Regions from separate parts of the Homo sapiens genome. Here region 2 is linked to region 1. Evidence: fine-mapped expression QTL. A gene starts in region 1. The other region holds a variant in brackets. All regions are shown on one strand. Distances are between the middles of the regions.

Region 1 (11,607 bases):
GAAACTAGAAGGAGGCGTGCAGGGAGAAAGCTGCTCCCACTGAAGGCTCTAGCTTCAAGGTGAAACTGTGCCACCATCTGCCAGGAAAAAAGGGTCAGGAGAAAGAGGGATGATAAACCTTGGGACTGAAGTGAAGAGCGGAGAGCCAGCCGGCGGACACAGCTGAGGCTGAGGCTGGGTGTGTGAGGGCCGAACACCTCTCTTCCAGCTATGGGACAGAGCACAGCCCGGCCCTGTGACGTCTTCATTTAAGTTAGCTGGTTGGCGTCTCTGACCTCCAAGGTCTCCTTGTGACCTACATTCCATGGAGCCCGGACAGGTGCACAACCCCTGAGAGCCCACACAGTATAAATGTTTGCACATCTGCCCCGCGTGTTTCGTGAAACAGTAGTGGGGCGTTTTGATCATACATTCCCTCAGGTCGTGTGGGGCTCTCCCTAAGTGGTATTTATTGATGCAGGACTGCACAGGGTCCCACAGCGTGCTTGGATGGTGGCCTGAAGGGGAGATCCGACACATACAACAGCGGTAGCAGGCCTGGCAGTAGTGGGGAAGTAGTAACACGTGTGTGTGTGTGTGTGTGTGTGTGTTTGTATAGAGAGAGACAGAGAGATCCATTCTTTTTTTTTTTTTTCTTGAGATGGAGTCTTGCTCTGTCGCCCAAGCCGGAGTGCAGTGGTGTGATCTTGGCTCACTGCAATCTCCACCTCCCGGGTTCAAGTGACTCTCCTGCCTCAGCCTCCTGAGTAGCTGGGATTATAGGTGCCCTCCACTTCGCCCGGCTAATTTTTGTATTTTTAGTAGAGAGGGGGTTTCGCCATGTTGGCCAGGCTGGTCTTGAGCTCCTGACCTCAGGTGGTCCACCTGCCTCGGCCTCCCAAAGTGCTAGGAATACAGGTGTGAGCCACCGTGCCCGGCCGAGAGATCCATTCTTAACAAGGAGGTTACGACTACATAGAGTAACCTTATAATTTACTCTGTTGGACTGAGAAAGCAAGCAAGGCAGCCAATGGCGGTGACATCAGCTCTCCAACGGGCCGTCGGTGCTGGCCATCTGTGGACCTCACAAGAACGTCAAAGACCAGCAAGGAAAAAGCAGGCCCCTGATCTCTTGCTTTCCTCGATCCTTCTACAGTTGCATCTTCACCTCCTTTCTATCTGTGGATGTGTCCAGTGCTGAATATGAAAGTGGGGCCATGATGTCCTTTCTGTCTGTGATGATTTGGGTCTGCTACCCTTAGACGGAGGAGCCTGGGAGAAGACAATGTGAAACTCTGGAACCGCAGCTGCCCCACGCTTTACAAGAGCCTCTTTTAGGGAGTTCTTGGGCAAGGCATGAGGGGTCCTGGGGAACCAAGGGCCTCCTTGGCTGGGGCTTCTTGCAGGTTGGTGGGCTGATGTGTGTTTTCTGTTTCTTTGTTCCCTGTGGCCACCTCCTGATGCTAAGAGTAGATCAAAGTAAATGCTTCCATGGGGCGAAATGAGGGTCTTCAGCTTACACAGGTGGCAGTGCGTGGAAAGGAAAACAGGCACTCCACTGCAACACGGCCCGAGCCGGCCGGGCACAGAGGGGAGCAGGGGCCAGGCTCACCTGGCACTGAAAGGGTGGTACAATGGCAGGAGGCATCTTGGTAGTGACAGCCCTCTACATGTCTGAGCCCTAGGCAGCTGGACATGCCACCACCCTGCTCTCATCTGGACTGGCAACCTCTTGCCCGGTACACAGCTGCCCTCCTGCCCTCCCTCCTCTCCCACTATGTGGATCCCTGCCCGCTTACTAGATCCTCTGTTTCTTCCATCCCTCATTGCCCTCTTTCATGCTTTACACCCTTGTTTTGTTAGAGCACGTCCTCTGGTAGCTGAGAGATGGTGTGTGGGAAATAATTTTGTCGAGATCTCGCATGTGCAAATGTCTTTGTTTTAATCTCACGTTTGATTGTTAATTTTGTGAAGTAAGGGATTCCAGGCCAGAAATCACTTGCCATCAGCTTTTGAAGGCACGCTTTGTGATTGGTTAGCTGCCCTCTTTGTGTTGAGAATTCTGGAGCTATTCTCGTTCCTGCTCTTTTTTATGGCACCTGGAAACTTGGGGAAACATTTTTTTTTTTTCTTCAGTGATTTACTTTTCAAGATAATGTGCCTTGATATGAATCATTTCCATCGATTTTGTGGACAATTTGGAAACTTATTTCTGGAAAAAAATTCTTAAGTAATTGATGATTTCCTTTCTTCTCCTCCTCCTCCTTCTCTCTGGGGGCCCTATGGGGGTCGGGGTTAGAATTCCTTTTGTGTTGAGCCTCGTGAATTGATCATCTAGTTTTTTTTCATCCCCTCTTTCTTCTTTTTCTCCTCTTTGCCTTTTTGCTTTGCCTTCTGGGGCATTCCCTTACTTTTCTCTTCCAGCCTGTCTGTTGAGATGTTTTGTTTCTGCTCTCATGCTTTTAACTTCCCAGCTTTTTTGTTCTCTAAATGTTCTCCTTAAAATAGCACCCTGCTCTTGGTTCATGGATGCGGTATCTCCTCTGATCTCTGGGAGGATATTAAATACTGCTATTTCTGATGTTTTCTCCTCCCTGCCTAATATCTGTTTCCTCGAAGTCGGCCCCGCTCTGTTGCGTGTTTTGGCGGCTCCTTCTCATGAAGGCTTTCCGCAGGTGTCTGGTCATCCTTGGCTTTTTACTCACCTTAGGGGGGCTGCAAAGCTGGTTGGCAGCTCCGAGCAGGGAGTGGGGCCTGTGCTTGGAAGCAGCAAAGCTCTATCTTCAGGTTTCCCCTCTGGGTGCTGGTGAGATTCCCCAGAGGAGATTCTTCCGGCCTCCTGCCAGGAGGGTGGAGGTCAGGATGCTGACAGGTGCCGTGAGGGAAAAGGGGGGCTCTCCGTGCAGGACGCCCCTCTGTCCGCAGTGTCTGGCGGCCCCCAGGCCACAGAGGCTGCTTCAGTGTCCTCAGGGAATAAACCTCCAGAGGGGCTATCCGAGGATCTCCAGGCTTCCCCGGGTCTTGGGCCCCACGCCTTCTGAGCCTTCGGGGGATTCCATTGTCAGCCTTCCCTGCCTCTGGGCCGAGACTCAGCTCCGTGAGGGCGGGCCGCCACTTCTCCTGTGCCTCCCCGCTGCCCACAGCCGGCTACTGTTCTCTTTTCTCCTATTCTCCAGGTCGTTGGGGTTTATGCCTTTTTAAAGTTATTCTTATTTGAGATGGAAGTCTCACTCTTGTTGTCCAGGCTGGAGTAGTACAGTGGCGCGATCTCGGCTCTCTGCAACCTCCACCTCCCGGATTCAAGTGATTCTCCTGCCTCAGCCTCCCAAGTAATTGGGATTACAGGCACCCACAACCACACCTGGCTAGTTTTGCTATTTTTAGTAGAGACGGCGTTTCACCATGTTGGCCAGGCTGGTCTCGAACTCCTGACCTCAGGTGATCCACCCACCTCAGCCTCCCAAAGTGCTGGGATTACAGGCTTGAGCCACCATGCCCAGCCCCTTTTTAAAATTTTCTCTTTGTAGTTTTAGTGGGATTTTTCAGAGGGCACGAAATTAGCTCTGTGCCTTCAGTCGTCCTGTTGGCCCCAAGCCCAGTCTCCCTGTGTTTCTCTCCTAATGATTATTACCAAGGACTCCCCAGTCCTCCCCATGTGCTCACTTTTTAAAAATTAAAGTTTCCAAATCAGAGGTTTTAAAAATTCTCTTAGATGACGTCCCCAAATGGAAAATCTCCCGGTTAGTGCTGGTATGTCCTGCTGGCCCTGACACTTACTCTCTTCCGGCCAGATCCCTGTCTACGACAGCTGAGCACGAAGGGCAAACTCTCTGGGGCTGGTAATGAGGCCGGCCTGGCTGGGGCCTGTTCCCAAGGGGTGTCCTCACGCGCAGGCCCTGTGGCCAGTCCCAACCACAGAGGCCAATTTCAGTTTACCACCCGGGCGTCTGAGCAGGCCCACCGTGTCCTGAGTCCTGGGCTGGGACTGGTGGAACTTGGAACAAGATTTGGTGCTGTCTTCAGAGAGCTCTTCCAGAACGTCCCCAAGGAATGATTTACCGGGCCCTATGCTTTGCAGGGACCCCTCTTCCACTCGGGCACACAGCTCTGCCAGGTCAATGTGTCCCCACTTCACAGGCACATGCAGAACTCGCATGGGGAGCTGAAGGGAGACGGAGATGGGCTCGAATCCCACTCTTCGAGAGGTTTCTGCGAGGAGGCTCCAAAGGGCAGTAGGGTCTGGACCAGAGAGGAAAAGGCTCCCCAGGGAGAAGAAATGTGGGCAAGGGACAAGCGGGACCGACAGGGGGCACTGCCGGCACAGCGAGGCAAGAGCCCTGCCTGCAGGGAGACAGGTGCCTGCCAGGCAGTGGCTGGGCCCAGCCGGGAGTTGGAGGCCACGAAAGCCTGGACCATCTGACAGCAGAGAACCAAGAGGCCCAATTAGGGCTTTAGAGCTGGAATGCGCCATTTCAAATCCGGTGGCAGGGGAAAGTTCAGTCAACCAGGCGGCTGCCTTGCTCGTAGACACGGCATTTATCTGGTGGTTAGCTGTGGGGCTGTTTAGCTGTATGCTTGGAATTGTATAACACGATTCCCACCGGCCAAGACAGATCAATGACCCAGACGGGCTGGAGGGCCAGAAATTAAAAGCATGACGCTCATAAGTGGGCAGCGGCCACTGTCTTGGCCACCGTCTCTGCTGCCCTGCAGGGGGGGCAGCCAGCAGCCCAGAGCCCCTACTACCGAGAAGCTCCAAATCCATACTCCCCTCTTCCTGGCCTCTGGGTCTTCCAGGCCCCTACCAAACCCCAGATTCCATGATGTGCTTTTCACCTCACACAGAAAAGCAGGACAGTCAGGTGCGAGGAGGAGGCTAATTGTTCCAGGAGCAGCCTTCAGGAGCAAAAGTGACATGGGGACGGGTTTGGATCTGTTTGTGTGTAATTTGGAAATGTCCTTCGATGGTGCAGGCTCGTTTCTCCAGCCTGGTTGCTGCACCAGAATGTCTTTTGTTTTGGAAATGATTACTCAGCCTCCTGCCTAAACCTGTTTGGGACCGTCCAGACCTTCTTGCCCACTTCTGGTGTTGTGTGCCAGTGGTGGGCTGACCCCAGCAATAGATCTCTCCTGCCTTTCCAGAGGGTCCCCACTCCACTGTGTCCTCAGCCTCTGCTCTCCTGCTCCCTCTGCACCAAGGATAGAGACCCTCCCAGAACTCACACCAGGCCCCTTACTCTAGATGCTGGGGGAGGCTGGGACTGGGGACAGGAGCTACCTGATCTTTTGATTTTAGGGAAATCCTAAGCTGACCTCCCACAGTCCTTCCTCTCCAGCCAGGCACAGGTGGAAATGTTTAAATGGGTTGGGTTGGCCAATCTGGACTAACAGCACGGAGTGGGCCCGATCCCTTCCTTTCCAGTGGTCCTCCAGGAAGTCAGGGCACCTGGGCCTAGTGAGGGGGTTTGGGGTATGTGGGCAACTCAAAGGCATGGCATGGCATGCGGGGTGGGGTGGCATTCGTCCCTGATGCTTGGTGACCACGTCCCATTGCTGGGGATCCCTGGGCCTGGCAAAGAAAAATGGCCCCCAGGGACAGCGAGGCACAAGGGCAGGGGTCCTGTTAAGGGTCACCTGGGTTGATCCGCCCCCAAGATAGCTTGGAGGTGGGGAGGGGCAGCGGGCTTGGGGCTGCCCTTGAAGGGACCAGGGCAGCACTGGGTTCTGGGATCTTCCGTGTGTACCCCACCTCTTCTGTGCCCCTGCCCCGAGGAGTTGGCGCTGAAGGCTGCAGGGTGCTGACCGCCGAAGCCCACCCGGTCATGGCTCTCCCCGCTCCGCCGCCCTCCCCGGCCGCGCGACAGCCAGAGCCCCCTCCCATGCCGCGCGCTGCGCGCTCCGCTCGAGCTGCCACCGCCGCCCGCGCCGCCGCCGCGTGCTCCTGCTGCCGCCTCGCTCCAGCCGAACGAGCCAGAGGAACGAGAGAGAGAGAGAGAGAGAGAGAGAGAGAAGGAGGGCGGAGAGAGAGAGAGAGAGAGAGAGAGAGAGAGAGAGAGAGAGAGAAGGAGGGCGGAGAGAGGAGGGAGGAGAGAGAGAGAGAGAGGAGGCGAGGGAAGAGCGAGCGCGGGGCTGCTCCGAAGCCAGCAGAACCTCCTCGGACAGCGGCCCCAGCCGGGCCCCAGCAGCTCGCGTGGTCGGAGGAGAAGCAGCTGCCACAGCTGCCGCCCGAGCCCGGCCTCGCGCGCCCCTTGCCGCTGGCTCGCCGGTGCCTGTGCGGCCCCAGGACGCCGCTGCCCGCTCGGCGGCCGGGATGCAGCCGGGGCATGGCCGCCGGCCCCCAGTCACCTGCCGCGGGGAGCGCTGAGCCCGTGAGTAGCCTGGCCTCGTCGCCCGCCTCGCTCTGCGGCGGTCATTCCCATCGGGCTGAGCTGGGGGAGGGGGACATGGCCGCGGAGGGGCGCATGGGACCCCGCAGTGGGAGGCGGGCTGCTGAGCGCGGCCGGGGCTGACCCGAGGGCGCGTGGGGTGGGGTGGCGCCCTCGGGGTCAGGGGTCCCTGCGCGGGGTCGGGGTCCCTGGGTCCCTCCGGGGCTGGGGTCTGGACGCTCTGTCCGGCCGTGGGCCAGAGGGGCGATTTTGTGAATGGGAAGGCCCGGGGGTCGGGCTCCATGGAGACGCCAGGGAGTCCCGCGCGCTGCGTGGCGGTGGCAGTGGCGGTGGCGGTGGCGGTGGTGGTGGCTGTGGCGGCGGCGGCGGCGGCACAATGCCCGGCGCGGGGAACTCCCCGGCGGGGGGAGGCAGAGGCGCGCGGAGATCCCGGCCCCGCGGGGCGCGTCCGAGCAGGCAGCCGGAGCCCGCGCGGGTGGGAGAGAGGCTGGCGACCCGGCGGTGGTGCAACGTGCGTCTGTCGCGGCACCCAGGCCCGGAGAGAGCCCTGCCGGGGTCCTCTGAAAGGAGGGTCGCTGAGAGGTTGATGACCCAAAGGAGTTGTGGGGAGGAAGGGGCTGCCACAGCTCCCCAAATAGGAGCGGGGCCCGCAGCACCGCGGTGTGCGCGGGGGCCGAGCAGCGAGGGGCGAGCGGCGCGCAGGGCCCTACAGGGGGCGGGCTGGGGGCGCTCCGGGCCGAGTCCCCAAGCACGATAGGAAGGCTGGAACGGGAGCAGAGGCTGCCTCTCTGAAGCCTCGGCCACCCCCAGGGCCTCGAGCAGCGCGGCCGGGCTGGGAAAGCCGGGCACGCCCCTGGCCCAAACTTTCTGCCCTGGTGGCCCCGGGCGGTGGTGGGGCTCGCCCGGGGCGTGTTGGGCTCGCACGCTCGGGAAGGTGGTCTTCTGTGGCGTCTCGGGGTGGCGCGAGGCCAGTGGTCATTTTGGTGCTGGGGGTCGCAGCCTCCCTCCCCGGGACGCGGAGCCTCCCCTGGCGCGCAGCCCTGCAGTGTCGGTGCGGGGACCGAGACGCGGCGCCCCGCGTGGAGGGGCATTGGGAACCTGTCGGGTCCCCAAGCGGCCCTGGGATCCCTGGTATCACGTAGGGTGGGGGTGGGATGTTCCCGGAGTCCACTGGTGGGGGCGGGGGCCCAGCGAGGTGGGGAGAAACTCCTGGACAACAGAGCTGCCTCCCCCTCCCCTTTCCGTTCCAGCTTTGGCGAGGTACCTGATTTATTTAATGATCACTTTTAAAAAGGAGTCCCGCGGAGCCGCTAGTCCCGACGCGCGAGACACCCCACGGTGGAGGCTAAGGACAGAGACCCAAGGGATCCATCCCTGGGTTTAAGTCCCCCTTCCTGCCCCAGCTGGTGGTGAAGTCGCTTCTCGGGCGCGCAGGTTGCTAATTTCCTGCTCCAAACGCAGGTTGGACTCGGGGACGCCTTGGGCATGCACCCGGGCGCCCCGGGCACTTAGCGTGGAGCAGGTAGGAGGCTAATGGAGTGGGGTCGCCCGTAATGAGGTCTTTCAGCCGGAAGCCGGCTTCGGTTTTACTGGTCTGCAAAACATAATGGAAAAAAAAAGTATAAACATTGCGGCAGAACCTGCTCATTAAGTGTGCATCGCGGATTCGGGACGGATGTCTTAATTAGGCTGCGTTGTTCACGGGGATATTACACTAATTAAAAACCGACCCTCCAGGTGAGCAAAAATTGTGAGGGGAGAGAGGGAGAAAAGTTGTCGAGAAGGCGCTGCCTGATGAAAGCCGGGTATGGGCCTCTTGCAGGGGCGCCCCAGGTCACTGAGCGCCGGCGGGGTGGGGGCGTGGGGGCGGCATGGCGGGGGCGGAGGAGGGGAGCCTTCTTAGAACCATCCCGGCGCGCCTTCCTTCTCCGCCTCCTGCGGGCGAGGAGCTCCCTTTGGCCGAGGACCGAGGCTGGCCCCCCCGCCCCTCCCCCAGGACTGGAGGCCTTCCTGCGTGGGCGCCTCGCTCACCGCTCACCGCACACTCCTGGAAGCAACGCTTAACCCTTCATTTCCTGGCTGACAGCTTCTGGGAGGGCAAGGCTGTCCCCAGGAGGGAGACAGAGCGGGTGACGTGGGGACCACTGAAGGGGTTAAGGAGCAAGAAGCACGGTTGAAGGGACGCACCCAAGCCGAGACAGCCTGGGCCTGGCGAGGTGGCTGCGTGCGTGCGGCAGGGGTTGCCACTGGTGCTGGGCTGTTTGCGCTTGCACGGCCGGGGTTTTCTGGGGTGAGTTGTCCATTTCTAGCAGCTATCCACCCTCCTCCCCCCAAAGAAAAAAGGGAACCTGGGTGATTGCTTTGATCCACCTTCCTCAGGGGCCTGGGGCCTAGAGAGACCCGTGCCCACCCCGGGGACCTCGGGTCGCCTCTGGGTGCCAGGAGGAGCCAGGAGTCCAGGGAAGTCCCTAGGCTCCGCCCCTTACTCGGATGGGCCTTTGCGGCAAATGCTCCGCACCCAGTGACCTCGGTTGGGAGCCACAGCGGGGCTGGGAGTATTCACTGCCCTTCCGCAGGGACCAGAGGCGGATGTCGAGGGAAGGTGGCGGCATGGGCGGCCCCTGCCTCTGAGTGGCTCAGCAGGCACTCAGCGGGCGCCAGCACCAAGGACAGGGCCGGGGCCTCCACAGCCTGCCCTCCTCGCCCTCCCTCCTCTGACACGGTCCCAGGGCCGCTGGAGGCGCTGCGGGCGGCCGCCCTCAGGCTGCTGAGGACATGGGGAGGGCTCCCGAGGCTCATTCAAGAGCCAGAAAAGCCCAGGGCCTGCGAAGAGGTAATTACAGCAAGGAGGCCTCCTGGGTACCATTCCAGAGTGGGCCTTCTGTCCTGCGCCTGTCACTTACTCAACTTGGAGCGTGGCTGATGGCGCATCGGTGAAATGGAGAGATTATCGGGCTCTTTGGTGTCTAGGGATGAACTAGACACTGTAGTGGCCAGAGAAAATGCCATCTTCCCTGGCTGGTTCAGCCCTGTTGCCTCTCCCCTGCAGCCTTCTTTGACACCTCTCTCCCAGCCACATTCAGCCCTGGCCTAAGGCGCCTTCATACCGATGTGTGGCAGTTGGAGGTGCCTTGCTGCTGAGGGCAGGGGCCCTGCTTGGTTTATCTGCCCCCTCCCCCATATACGCAGATGGTGTTCTGACCCATGATGCCTGTGCAATTCGGAAGGAAGGAATGCATAAGTCACGCTCCTATCCCTCCCAGAAGCGCCAGAGTGGTGGTGGTAGGGGGTGGGGGGCAGTAAAGAGAGGAAAACATGTCAGTGGGCCAGAGCCACAGTGCTGAACGCGAAACTGCAATATTATTTTTCAGCCCTTGCAGGGTGGGGCTTCCCTCCTCTAGCCCAGCCCAGCCCAGAGCCTGCAAGTTTTGGTCGGTTGTCTCCCTGTGTTTATTTATTTCCACGCTCCTGCTTGATACTCTGTTATAAAGACAAATGGAACCTGACACGCAGCTGACATTTGGTGAGGAATTTTTTATTTTTAAACAAGTGAAGGGGAAGAAGCCATCTTGAAACTTTCTCCCCCTTCAACAGAGACCCGTTTGTTGGTTGGTAGGGAACCTACCATTCCCTAAATCCCTGCCTGCCACAGGCCCCTGCTCCTGGCACAAGGCACCGGCTTTATAAACACATCCCGTTTGTACCTCCACCCTTTGATAAGCTGCAGCATCTCTCCACGCTCTTTCATAAAGCAGCGCGGTATTTTCACAGGCTCATGAAACATTCAGGCAGCCTCAACATCTTACTTTCTGCTGCCTCTCTGAAGAAGGTTGCTCCCTGAGCCATCCCTGTCCTCTATAACGTCCTGGGTCTATCTCCCTGTCTCCCTGTCCGTCTATCTCTTCCTCTCCCCAACTCTTTTTTCCTCCTGTGCTTTCTGAGTGGCGCGGATGCTTAGTGTGTGATTGCCTCCTTGTGTGACCTGTGAGGGTTGAGGACGGCTCTTGGTTAACAGTTGCATGGCGGGCATGCAAGGAGCATTGCACACATACATATGCTGTGCATACCCGGCGGGGCCTGTTCTGGGTTGGGGACCCACAGACAGACGAGTCACCTCCCTTCAAGAAATACCACGTGACACAGACTGATTTGGTGTATAAAATAGACATTTTTAAGTGCAATGCACTTAGTAAATTAGTTTGCTATCACAGTTTCTCCAACACATAGACTGACACCAAAACACGCCTTAGAGGGAGGCTGGAATAATAAAGAGTATAAAGTCTGTTAGTTTATTTGTAGCTCGGGGCGAGCTCAGTCTATCAGTTGCATTTTGAAAAGTGTGGCCAGGGTCTAGGTGGAAGGAGTCATTCTGGATGCGTCTTGCCCGGGTACCACGGGAGTCCCCCTCTTGGCCTGGGAAAGGACCATCCACCATCTTTAATTTAGGGGCCTAGGGATGTGCTCCACTGTGTGATAGGACTCCTATAGAAATTACAAGTGCTAAGTGGACAAGTATGTTTTCTCCCAAAGCAAAGGCCACCTCTTGGGTGCAGGGAGCTTGGTGTCATCAGGCCTCTGATCCTGGCCCTTACCTGTAAGACACGTGGGGGCCTTGACTGTTCTGGTCAGGCCCAGGCGTCCTTCTGGTTTCTTCCTGGTCTCTAGACAGACCAGCAGCTTGAGGTGGTCTCCTTGCCCCTCCTCTCCCTTCTCACTGCTGCTGCCCCTGCCAACTCACTGCACTCGAAACATTGACAAGACTGTGGTATCGAAGGCTCTGCAGTCAGGGGATAGGGGGCAGAAGAACAAGGGATGGGGTGCTCTCCTCTGTGGGGAGTGTTCCCCTTGTGGGTAGAGAAAGCTGCGGCTTGGGGAAGCTTTTTAGAAGTGAAAATCAGTCTTCCCTTGGATCCGTCTCCACTCCTTCCGTGTAGGTTGGGGCCAGGGCTCGTGGGTTCCACCTGAGAGGTGGGTTGTAACTTGCTGGCGTCAACTTGAGTTGGGGGTCCTCAGCCTCCGTGGTTTCCTCTTAGGACCAAGAGCCAAGCACTTGCTACTGCAAGTTTTCTTTTAAGGTTTAATTATTTGTGCTCAGAACATATTCCCAGCAGAAAAAAGAAAGAGGAAGAATATATGTATTTTTAGCAGGAATTTACTTGCTTATTGCTTTGGTTAGCGGCTGTGCTGAGAGCTTTCTCCCAAGACTCCAGAAGAACAGAGGCCTAGGCGGAGCAACCGCTCT
Region 2 (11,607 bases), 56 kb after region 1:
ATCTCTAAAGATTTTGAGACTCCTCTTTTGGACTCACTGTAGTGCAAGGTCTATTTGTTTGAATTGTGAACACATCCTCCTTTGAGGGTGCAGCTGATTGTGGGAGAGGCCAGGCGCCCCCAGCTCTGTCTGGTGGGGAGCCTGGCCCATAGAGTTGGCTGGGGTCCAAATGCTGGCTTCACTTCTTATTACACACGTGGTCTTGGACAAGTTATTGAATCCCCATGAGCTTCCGTTTCCCCAACTGTGAAATGGGACCAAGCATCCTTCCTACCCCCTGGGGCAGCTGAGAAAAGGAGAGGACGCAGGTGAAGTCCTCCGCATGCCACCCAGTGACAGGCTGAAGCTCGGGAAGCACCTGCAGCTGCAGCTCTCGCGCTGGCCGTGCTGTCATGGGTGGGGAAGTGGGTGGGGGCATCTGTGGATGGAGACTGAACGGCTTCCCGCCACGAGTGTTCTGGCTGTGGTGAGGTGAGGTTGCTGTGACAGCACTGGCTGGCAGGCTTAGATGTGGGGAGTTGGTGCTGGAACATAAGTCACTGAACCCCATGATCCCTGGAGTGCGTATTCTTCAATGTTCCTGGACACGCCATGGTCGGGTGGGCAGTAGCTGCTCATTAGGTGCCCACCGTCCTGGTAAACATAAAAATGAAATTGCTGTTTCTTGAGTACCTGTTCTGACTGGTCCTGAGGCTACAGTCAAGGAGAAGTAAAGTGGTTGCCCTCTCACACCTTCCGCCAGCAGGACAGGGAGGGCACTTCATTTGCAGTGGGATGGCGAATGAAGCATGAATACCTGCATGGGTTCTCTGCTCTGCAGTTCGCAAAGTATCCCTGTGTATGTGAGAGCTGGGCATTCTTAGGCTTTTCGGGTCTCCCTCAGCCTTTCCCTGTGCTTTGCTCTGGCTCGGTGACCACCCAGCAACCATTTCAGCCCAGTCACTTCTACACTCAGTCTTTTGGGGCTGGGATGGAGATTGACGGTGGGTGGGGGAGGCTGTTACTTTGGACCTGATTTTCTAGGAGTTGCTGAAGATGCAACGGGGTGTCACAAGATCCATCCACCCACCACCCACCCACCCACCTATTCATCCACCCACCCATTCATTCATCCATACACCCACCCACCCATCCTTCCACCCATCCACTGTTCACCATCCACCCATCCATCTATCCACCCATTCATTCACCACCGACCATCCACCTACCCACCCACCCATCTATTCATCCACTCACCCACCCACCCATCCACCTACCCACCATCCACTATTCACCATCTACCCATCCATCCATCCACCCATTCATTCACCACCTAACATCCACCCACCCATCTGTTCATCCATCCACCCACCTACCCATCCATCCACTATTCACCATCCACCCATCCATCCATCTACCCATTCATTCACCCATCCATCCACCACCCATCATCCACCCATCCATCCACCCACCGACCCACTCATCCATCCACCCACCCACCCATCCATCCACCCATCCACTATTCACCATCCACCCATCCATCCATCTACCTATTCACTCATCACTCTCCATCCACCCCCCCACCCACTCACCCATCTGTCCACCCACCATTCATCTATCCACCCATCCACCTATTCACCATCCACTATCCACCCATACAAAATCCACCACCTACCCATCCATCATGCAGTATCCATCAGTCACCATCCACCTACCCATCTACTATCCACCCATCCACCACCCACCACTTACCATTCACCCATTCACTTATCCACCCATCCATCCAATCATCCATCCCATCCACCCATTCACTATCCACCATCCACCTCAACTGCCACTCACCTATCTACCATCCACCACCCACTCACCACCCACCATGACCCACCATTTGCCATCTACCCATCCATCCATTCTATAAATAATTAGTAAGCACTTAATGCATGCTAGGTATTATTTTAGGCACCAGTAAGACAATCATGGGAAAAAAAGACAGACAACCCCCGCCCCTCCCATCCTCAGGGAGCTCTATTCCAGTGAGAACAATTAATGTGCTAGATTGTGAGGTCATCAGTGCTGCTGCCCGTGTAAGACTGAGGTTCCCAGGCCCGAGACCAGCCTGGCCAGGGCTCCCAGGGTCTCCTGGTGGGGACTCTCAGGAGTCCAGCTGCTGCCCCTCAGCTGAGCACCTGGCATGGACAATGCCTGGTAAATGCTTGCTATGTGAGGGCACCTGCCCACGTTGAATCCACACAGCCTCTGGGCCACAGGGGTCCTGCTCCTTAGCAAGCCTCTCTGTGCCCTCCATGCTGGCCCTGCATCCCCTGGCACACCCCCCACCATTGTCAATGTCCTTCTTGTGCAGCTGGCCTCGGTCCCTCCTCTCTCCCTCCTGCTCCCCGCAGGCCCACGCAGCCTCCGCGCACTGTGGGTGGTGAGAATATGTGGTTAACAGGTTGACTAACCCAATCCCCGCAAGGCAGGGGAAGGCTGCTCCAGTAAATTTCCAAATGTGTCCGGGCTGACAATTTTGGTTTCCTCTCAAGCAGTGAGTGCATGGAGCCCGGCCGGGAGGGAAGTGTTCAGGGGCCCGAAGCCACCTTGGAGGGCTGGTCCTGACTGTGGTCTTGCCTCCCTCCTGGGCAGCCGGGAAGTGTGGGCCCTGGTGTTTCTGCTTTGGAAGATCCTCCCCATCCGCCAGCACCCTGGGGCCCTCAGCCCCGCCCCTCAGCTGCCCCCAGCCGGTCTCTGCGCCTGGACCCTCCGGACGGTTCCCTGCTGTCTGCCAGTCACCAGACACTGGGTTGGCTCTCATGCACACAGGGCGGGAGATCCTGGCTCTCACTCTCTCTGTGTTAGCAAATATTTTTCTGAACTCCAATTTTCCTTCCTGCTCCTGCGCCAGGCCCCTCAGAGCAAAGGCGGCCACCCAGGTAGATCCCTGGGCCTGGGCCACGTGGCCCTCTCAGCTCCTCTGAGGGTATGTCTTTCCTGCCCCCAAACAGTGAACAAAACACAAATCACCCTCCCCGTGTGACATCACAAGCTGGTCTGCGATGGACCTCGTGATGATCTGAGTCTGTCCCCTCTCCCTGCTTCCTGGGTTTCCTCGGCTCAGAAAATAGCAGTTTCAGGCTGCTTTTTTCTCCTCTTAGATTTGAGTGTTTGTAATTTTTCTTCAAGCTGAATCTCAATTTACTTGGGAGCTACTTATCTTCCCTCCAGGTCTCCTCTGTCTCCCGGCCGTCCCCTTGCCCCAGCAAACAACCGCAGCGCCACCCCCTGCGTCCTCGGCAGGTTTTGCTCGTGACCTGTCTGTTGTCTTCCAGATCATTAGCTTGGATATTAAACAAAACTGGGGCCTTGCAGTGGCCCAGGAGGCCTCCCACGAGATGCCCCCGCCTGCCCGATACGCTGACATCTGCCGTTAGCCTTTGTTTATGGCTGTCCAGCCTCCCTCAGCCTGTGCCTGTGTTGATACCAGAGCCAATCTAGTCCAATTTCACACAGAACATTTCTTCAGACTCGTTTCTTCGGCCTCACCAACAGCCGCTAATTTGGTGGCACCTATGAAAATGGGCTGGGGATCCGCAGCTGTCACTTGGTCCTTGCCACTCTTCCCCCCTTTCCCCCCACCACCGCCGGGCTCCCACGGCCCCAGACGTGGTCTCTTTGGAAATGTTCCATCATCTCAGAGACTGCAGCTGTGGGATGGGGGCTTGGCTGTGAGTAGACTGGACTTGGGTTTTCTCGGGGTTTGGAGGGTGGCCCTTGTTGGCTTCTCCATGGCTGGGTGGGTGGGCAGGGGTAACAGACCAGATAGAGACTAACAGTCCAGGGCCTGGGGCCACACTGCCTGGATTGGAATTCCAGGCTACCTGCTCATTCTCTGGGCAATTTCTTTCCTTTCCTTTCCTTTTTTTTTTTTTTTTTTTTTTTTGAGACAGTGTCTCACTCTGTCACCCAGGCTGGAGTGCAGTGGTGCGACCTCGGCTCATTGCAACCTCTGCCTCCTGCTTCAGCCTCCCGAGTAGCTGGGATTACAGGTGTCCACCACCATGCCTGGCTAATTTTTATATTTTTTGGTAAAGATGGAGTTTCACCATGTTGCCCAGGCTGGTCTTGAACTCCTGACCTCAAATGATCCACCATCCTCGGCCTCCCAAAGTGCTGGAATTATAGGCATGAGCCACCATGACTAGCCTTGTCAGTTTCTCAGTAGAGTTCTTTGGGGACCATGGAGACAGACGTGGAAAGCCCTGAGCACCAGCTGGACACAGGGTGAACCCCTGGGCAGCAGCAACCCCTGCTAGTGAGGAGTCCTTGATTCTGTCCCCTTCCCCACGCTCCCCTTCGGTGGACTCTGTGCCTCCAGAAAGTCCCTCCCTTCCTAGGAATTTTGCCATCTCAAGACGTTGATAGATGTGCTGCCTTCTCAGATATTTGCTTATTTTGCCTTTTGCCAGTAAATATTTTGCCCGTCTTTTCTTCCTAGTTCATATATTTTCATTACTGACAAAGTTATTAAATTAGTTCGAGTCTTTTAAGTAGCCGTTAATTTCACATCAGCCCTAATTTGTGTACTTGATTTCCTCTCCCCACCCACTCTGGATGTGGTTACAGCTCCTCCTCCTGTCGCTCATTTGTGTTAAAATCAACACTTCCTCCCCAACAGCTCCCTGTAAGCCTTCCTGTGGGCGGCCTGGGCAGAGCTACCTCCATCAACCCTGTTTCCAGCATGGTCTGTCCCCTCCTCGGCCCTTCAAATGCTTTACGGAGCCACACGGGCACTCCTCCTCCTGCCACCGAATGGAACTGCTGTCTATTTTGCCTTATGTCCTGACGTCCCCTTCCTGTATTCATTTCTTTGGGTTCCCAGGACC[T/G]AAGCCAGTGCCCTGCCCAGAGTAAGTGCTCACTGGTGTTTGAGGGGTCAGCAGGGAGGGAGGAGTGGAGACCAGCTTGGTTTGGAAAACTTGGTCTTCTCTAGGCCTGGCTGGTAGCAGGTGTGAGACCTTGGGTAAACTGCTCTCCTGATCCTGGTCTTTGCTTCCCCGTCTGTAAAGTGGAGGAATTGCGTCTGGATGATTGCAAGTATGCTTTCCCGCTCTGACATTCTAGAATCTTCCATTTCTTTTGCTCTGTGGGCATTGATTCATCTTTCCAATGGGGCCTGTCTTCACTGTATGGTATTGGGTTTTGGTGACATTGTTGTAGTTGGAGTTCTGGGATAATGTAATTGTTGTCATTGTTGCCAACACCATTGCTGCTGCCACTGCCTTCTACCACCACCATCACCACTATCATCATCATCACCACCGTTACCATCACCACCATCATTACTATCATCATCGTCACCATCACCACCGTCATCACCATCACTGCCATTATCACCATTACCATCGCCATCACCACCACCACTACTATCATAATCACCATCACTGCCATCATCACCATTGCCACCACTATCACCACCATCACCACCATCATGACTATCATCACCATCACCACCACCACCACCACCATCACTGACATAATCACCATTACCACCACCACCGCCATCACCACCATTATCATTGTCATCATCATCATCACTACCACCACAACTACCATCATCACCACCATCACCACCACCACAACTACCATCACCACCACCATCACCACCACCACCACCACTGTCATCACCACCATTATCATTGTCATCATCATCATCACTACCACCACAACTACCATCATCACCACCATCACCACCACCACAACTACCATCATCACCACCATCACCACCACCACAACTACCATCATCACCACCATCACCACCACCACAACTACCATCATCACCACCATCACCACCACCACAACTACCATCATCACCACCATCACCACCACTACCACCACCACCATGGCCATCACTATCACCACTTCCCGAGTGCTTACCATGGGCCAGGCATTGTGCTGGGTATGTGATAGCTATCACCCATGTGATTTTTACAGTCATCCATTGGGGATATGGATACTCTTCTCCCTATTTCACAGGTGAAACATCTGAGGCACAGAGAAACTATTTGCCTTGGGTCCCACAGCTAGTGGTGGCAGATCTGATTCCAACTCAAGTCTGCCTGACACTCAAGCCTGTGTTCTGGCTGCCCTGCCCTGTGGACCCTCTTTGTTCCCCTCAGGCTGGTTTCCTTTGCTTTTTGTGACTGTACATTTTAGCTGTTCATGAGGCTGAGTTCTGTCCGTTGATGTTCTATGGTTTGGAGAAGTCTTTAGCTTCTCTAAGCCCGGGTCTTCTATTCCATAAAAGAGGGAGAGGAAACCCCACCTCATGGTGGTGTCTGAGGATTAAAAAAGTTATGCTCATCAGAACCTAACACAGAGCCTGGAATAGAATTAATATTCAAATATTGGTTTTAGAGTTATAATGATTGTATATTACATCAAAATTACTATCCACCCTGTAATTTTTCCCACAAATGTATATTGAAAACCTTCCATGTGTGAGACCCTGTGTTAGGTGCTAGACATCCAGAACTGAGCAGGACGTGGTCCCCACCTCCTAGGAGCCCAGCCTGCTGGGGAAGGCAAAGTGGAAACAGCACAGCACAATGAAGTCAGGCTCACAGCGGGGTGCGAAGCACCCACGAAGAAAGGGCCAGCAGGGCCAGGTCGGGGGTGACTGTGAGTGAAGATGGAGAGGGCCAGGTGAGGGGTGACTGTGAGTGAAGATGGAGAGGGCCAGGTGAGGGGTGACTGTGAGTGAGGATGGAGAGGGCCAGGTGAGGGGTGACTGTGAGTGAGGATGGAGAGGGCCAGGTGAGGGGTGACTGTGAGTGAGGATGGAGAGGGCCAGGTGAGGGGTGACTGTGAGTGAGGATGGAGAGGATGCACAGCCTTAAATTCACAGCCAATAAAAATGAGAGAACAAAAGTAACTCAGTTAAGCTTATGATTCAAAAAAGTTAGAAAAAGGACAAAAAATAATGCACTGAAGAAAAGTAGAAGGAAGCCATTAATGAACTAATATAATAATAATGGGCCACAAAATAGAAAAATGGGACTAGTAAATAAAAGCTGTTTTCTGGAAAAAGTTAGATGAACCACTAACAAACATAGTCAAGGTTAGAAGTCAAGAAAGCAGCCAGGCACAGTGGCTCACGCCTGTAATCCCAGCATTTTGGGAGGCCGAGGCGGGTGGATTGCCTGAGGTTGGGAATTTGAGACCAATCTGGCCAACGTGGTGAAACCCTATCTCTACTAAAAATACAAAAATTAGCCAGGATGTGGTGGTGGGTGCCTATAATCCCAGCTACTTGGGAGGCTGAGGCAGGAGAATCGCTTGCACCCAGGAGGCAGAGGTTGTGGTGAGCCAAGATCGCACCACTGCACTCCAGCCTGGGCAACAGAGAGAGAGAGAGAGAGACTCTGTCTCAAAAACGAAAACAAACAAACAAAAAAACCCCAAGAAAACCCAAGGAACACATAATGAGGAATAATAAGGGAGAAATATAATTTACCAAACTGATCAATTTGTATGGAAGATAGAAAGTTTCTAAGCTACTCTCACACAAAGCTTGTGGTCTGAATGGTTCCACAGGGGAATTTGAACAAAACCTTTAAAGAGCAGGTGCTTCCAATGCTAATTAAAGTGTTCCACAGCAAAGATAAAGAAGAAAAAGTCTAAGTAATTTTCCTAAAGTGAGAATAAAATTTTTTTTACCTGACAAATATTGTACAAAAATAAAACTACAGGCCAGTCTCACTTATAAATATCAATGCAAAAATTTAAATAACAGATTACCAAATAGGATCCAAGCATCATCTTAAAATAATAATACCCTGTGTTTACTTGGAGTTTATTCTAGCAATGCAAGAATGGTTTAATAGGAAGAAATCTGTTTATATAATGCATCATATTAATATAAAGAGAATTAACACACGATTATCTTTTTTAACACTGAAAAAGCATTAACAAAATTCAGCATCCATTCTTGATAAACATTCAGCAAAACATAAATTGATACTTTCTTAACGTGACTGTAATCATATTCAAAACTCATTTTTTTCTTAATGTGGAAACACTGAAGTTAAGAAAAAAGCAAGGATGCCTACTCTTGCTACTACTATTTCATATTGTAGCAGAAGCATTAGCCAATGCAATCAGACAAGAAAAGAAATGAGAAGAATAAATATTGGAAAGGAGGGGCTAAAAGTATTACCCTTTTTTAGATGATATAATTGTATACTTGGAAAATCCTAGAGAATCCATGAAAAACTACTACAACCAACAAGGTAATCCTATGTATGCATGTATGCATGTCCATATGTATATATGTATCTGTCTTACAACAGTAATATAATGGGAGAAAAGGCCCCTATTTATGATAACAAAAATAAAATATCTAGGAATAAACTTAACAAGAAATGTGCAAAATGCATGTGCAAAAAACTTAAGAATCCTGAAGAACATTTTTTACACCTCGATAAACTCCAAATGGAGCCAAGCCTTAAAGTCAGCAAATATTTCTTGAATTACAATGGAATCATTATAATTCAAGAAATATTTGCTGACTTGAGCGCTTTCCATACACCAGGCCCTGTTCAGGCCCTGGTGATACAACAGTGAACAAAACAGATAGAAATTCCTTCCCCACTGGAGCTTGCATTCTAGGTGGGAAACGAATAAGAAAATTGTGTTGTAACTTAGATAATGATATTCTTATGGCAAATTATGCTGCTGGGAGAGGAGTCAGGGTGAGGTTGCAGTGTGAAGAGTGGGGGCCATGAAAGGCTTTGCTGATGTGTGATGTTTAAGCCATTATTTTAAGTCATTTATTGTTTAACTTTTCATGTGTTTATTTTGCAACCTAAACTAGCTCAGAAGCTCCCTGCATTTTCCATAGCATACAGGCCTATAGTAAGGTTTCAATACATTAATTTGTTTAAATTATCAAATTTTGAAGATTTGAATTTTTCTTTTACTATGCCATATTCTCTGTATTTAATCTTGGTCTTCTAGGGTCTTTCCATTCTGCTACCCACAAAACCTTGTTTTTCTGGAATGGAAAGCCTCCAAAACTCTTATTGTTCAAAATATTGTCCTTGGACCAACGTCAGCATCATGTAAGGGCTTATTAGAAATACAAATGTTTGAGTCCTCCCCTATGCCTACTGAATTTTAGGATCTGCATTTTAAACAAAATTTTTGGGTGCTTTGTATGCATATTATATTAGTCCATTTGCATTGCTCTAAAGGAATACTCGAGGCTGAGTAATTTATAAAGAACAGAGGTTTATTTGGCCATGAGCAGGCTGTACATGAAGCGTAGTGTTGGCATCTGTTTCTAGTGAGGGCTGCAAGAAGCTTACAATCACAGCGGAAGGTGAAGGGGAGCCAGAGTGTCACATGGTGAGAGAGGAAGCAAGACCATGAGGAGAAAGTTCCAGGCTCTTTTAAACAGCCACATCTCATGTGAACTCACAGAGCAAGAACTCACTTGTTACCAGGAGGTTGGCACCAAGCCATTCATGAGGGATCCGCCCCCATGACCCAAATGGAGGATGGCACCAAGACGTTCATGAGGGATCCACCTACCTATCTATCCACCTTCCATCTGCCCATCCATCCACCCACCCACCCGTCCATCCATCCACCCATCCACCTACCCGTCCATCCACCCACCCGTCCATCCACCCATCTTTTCATCCATCTACCTATTCAACCAGGCATCCATCCACCGACCCATCTATCCACCCATCCATCCACTTATTCCACCAGGCCCCACCTCCAACATTGGGGATTGCATTTCAACATGAGATTTGGAGGGGACAAATATCCAAATTATACTACATGTTAAAGTTGAAAAGCATTTTCCTAGCCCCTGGCTTTGCAAGTTCCCTTCTTGTTCAGCAGAAACCAGGGGCTGGGGGAGAGGGGAATCGCCCTGCTCATGTTGGTGTCAGCTTCTCACAGAGTCATCTCTTCTAACTGGCCTTGCATAGCCTGGATTCCCAAGGGCCTCCCAGGAAGTACCAGCAAGGTGTGTTGAAAAACTCTAGAACTGTTCTGTTCAATGCAGCAACTACTAGTTGCATGCGACTATTTAAATAAAATTTCTTTTGTTCAGATATACTAGTTACATTTCAAGTGTTCAGTAGCCACATGGGGCTAGCGGCTACCACACTGGACAGTGCAGGTATAAAGCATTCTTGTCCTCACAGAAAGTTCTATTGGATGGCACTGATGTAGAATATACCAAGTCCTAGATTTTGAGAATTTTTGAATTGCAAAGTCAAATTATTTCTGTCCATTTGCTTCCATTTATTTCAACAGAGTATCATCCAGCTGTCTGTCCATAAATCAACCCACTCACTGACCATCCATCCATCCACCCACCCACGCATTCATCCACACAGCCACCTATCCGCTTATCCATTCTTCCATCCACTCATCCATCCTTCCATCCACTCATCCATCTACCCATCCACCTACCTATCCATCCGTCTTTTAATCCATCTATTCTTCCATCTGCCCACCCATCTATCCACCCATCATCTGTCCACTCATCCATCTATTCATCCACTTAGTCATTTTGTCATTCCGTCATTCCGTAAATGATTATAGCATGTAGTGGTACTTTGAAAAATACTTATTAAATAAACCATAGAATGGTCTATGTGTCCTCCATCCCAGGCTTGGGTACTAGACGTGTGTGTGTGATGTACTTCCTTACCATGAGCTTGTGGACCTGCATCTGGACTTTCTCCCTGATGTCTGGGCCCCCTTTTACTGTACCAGTTTAGCCTTCCTTGCACCGTAATCTCTCAATTCCATGATTTCTCCTGCCTGAGCTGGTTAATACACTGGCTCCCATGGAACAGGTCTGGCTTCATGGAGCTGCCCCTTTTACATCAAAGCTACATAAGCTTTGAGGGTGATGCCCCTGGGAGCTGGGATGCCCTCGGGCCCTCTTGTTTCCCTGGGCTCAGTGCTCTTTTTCCCCAAGTCCCTGTGTTCCTGCCTGACCTCTCCTATTTGTGTTCAGGTTCACAGGCCTGACAGGGCCCTGGCTGGGGAAGTTGTCCCGGTGTAGACCTCAGAAAATGGAGGAAGATGGTCCCAACAGGGAGCAATTGACTCAGGGATGCGTGAGAGCTCTGGATGGTGCCCGGCACGGCTGGTCAGCATGCCCACGTCCTGCCCTACAAGTTAGCTGTCCACGTTTTTTTTTGGTGTGTGTGGTCTTCCCAGAACATGAAGGTTTTTTAGGTAAACTGCTTCATCCATCATATCACTAAAGCCTGGAGTTTTCTCACTTTTTATGACGATTCGACATTCTTGATTGAACGTTAGCTCTGACCAGGCTGAGGCCTGTGACCACAGCTGCTGAGCCCTCTCCATTGTGATATTTGGCCCCATGGTGACAGTCAGATTCCTTTCCCAGAGGGACAGGGCATGAGGCTCACACTGGGGAGCAGCACCTGCTGTGCCTTCCTTTGTCTCCTTCCCCAGTGCCCACAGGAAGGCCTCAGGCCTGCCCCACTGAGGGCCCCCATCATCCTGGGTGTCCCCAGAGCCCCGCTTTGGGTGGGAGGCTGGAATCACCACCCCACTTTGACACAGACACAAATCATTGTT

Evidence for each region.
Region 2: its variant is fine-mapped to the expression of RBFOX3 in blood mononuclear cells (TOPMed, PIP above 0.99).

What each region holds. Positions count from the first base shown.
Region 1 is chr17:79,605,566-79,617,172 of GRCh38, reverse strand. RBFOX3 (RNA binding fox-1 homolog 3) reads left to right here and starts at 6,122. Exons shown (of 15, transcript NM_001350451.2): 1 at 6,122-6,347.
Region 2 is chr17:79,549,535-79,561,141 of GRCh38, reverse strand. All of the region lies in intron 1 of RBFOX3 (RNA binding fox-1 homolog 3), which reads left to right. Among named protein-coding and RNA genes, the nearest start is that of RBFOX3, 56 kb to the left of the region's middle. The variant T/G (reference allele first, on the strand shown) is at 4,860.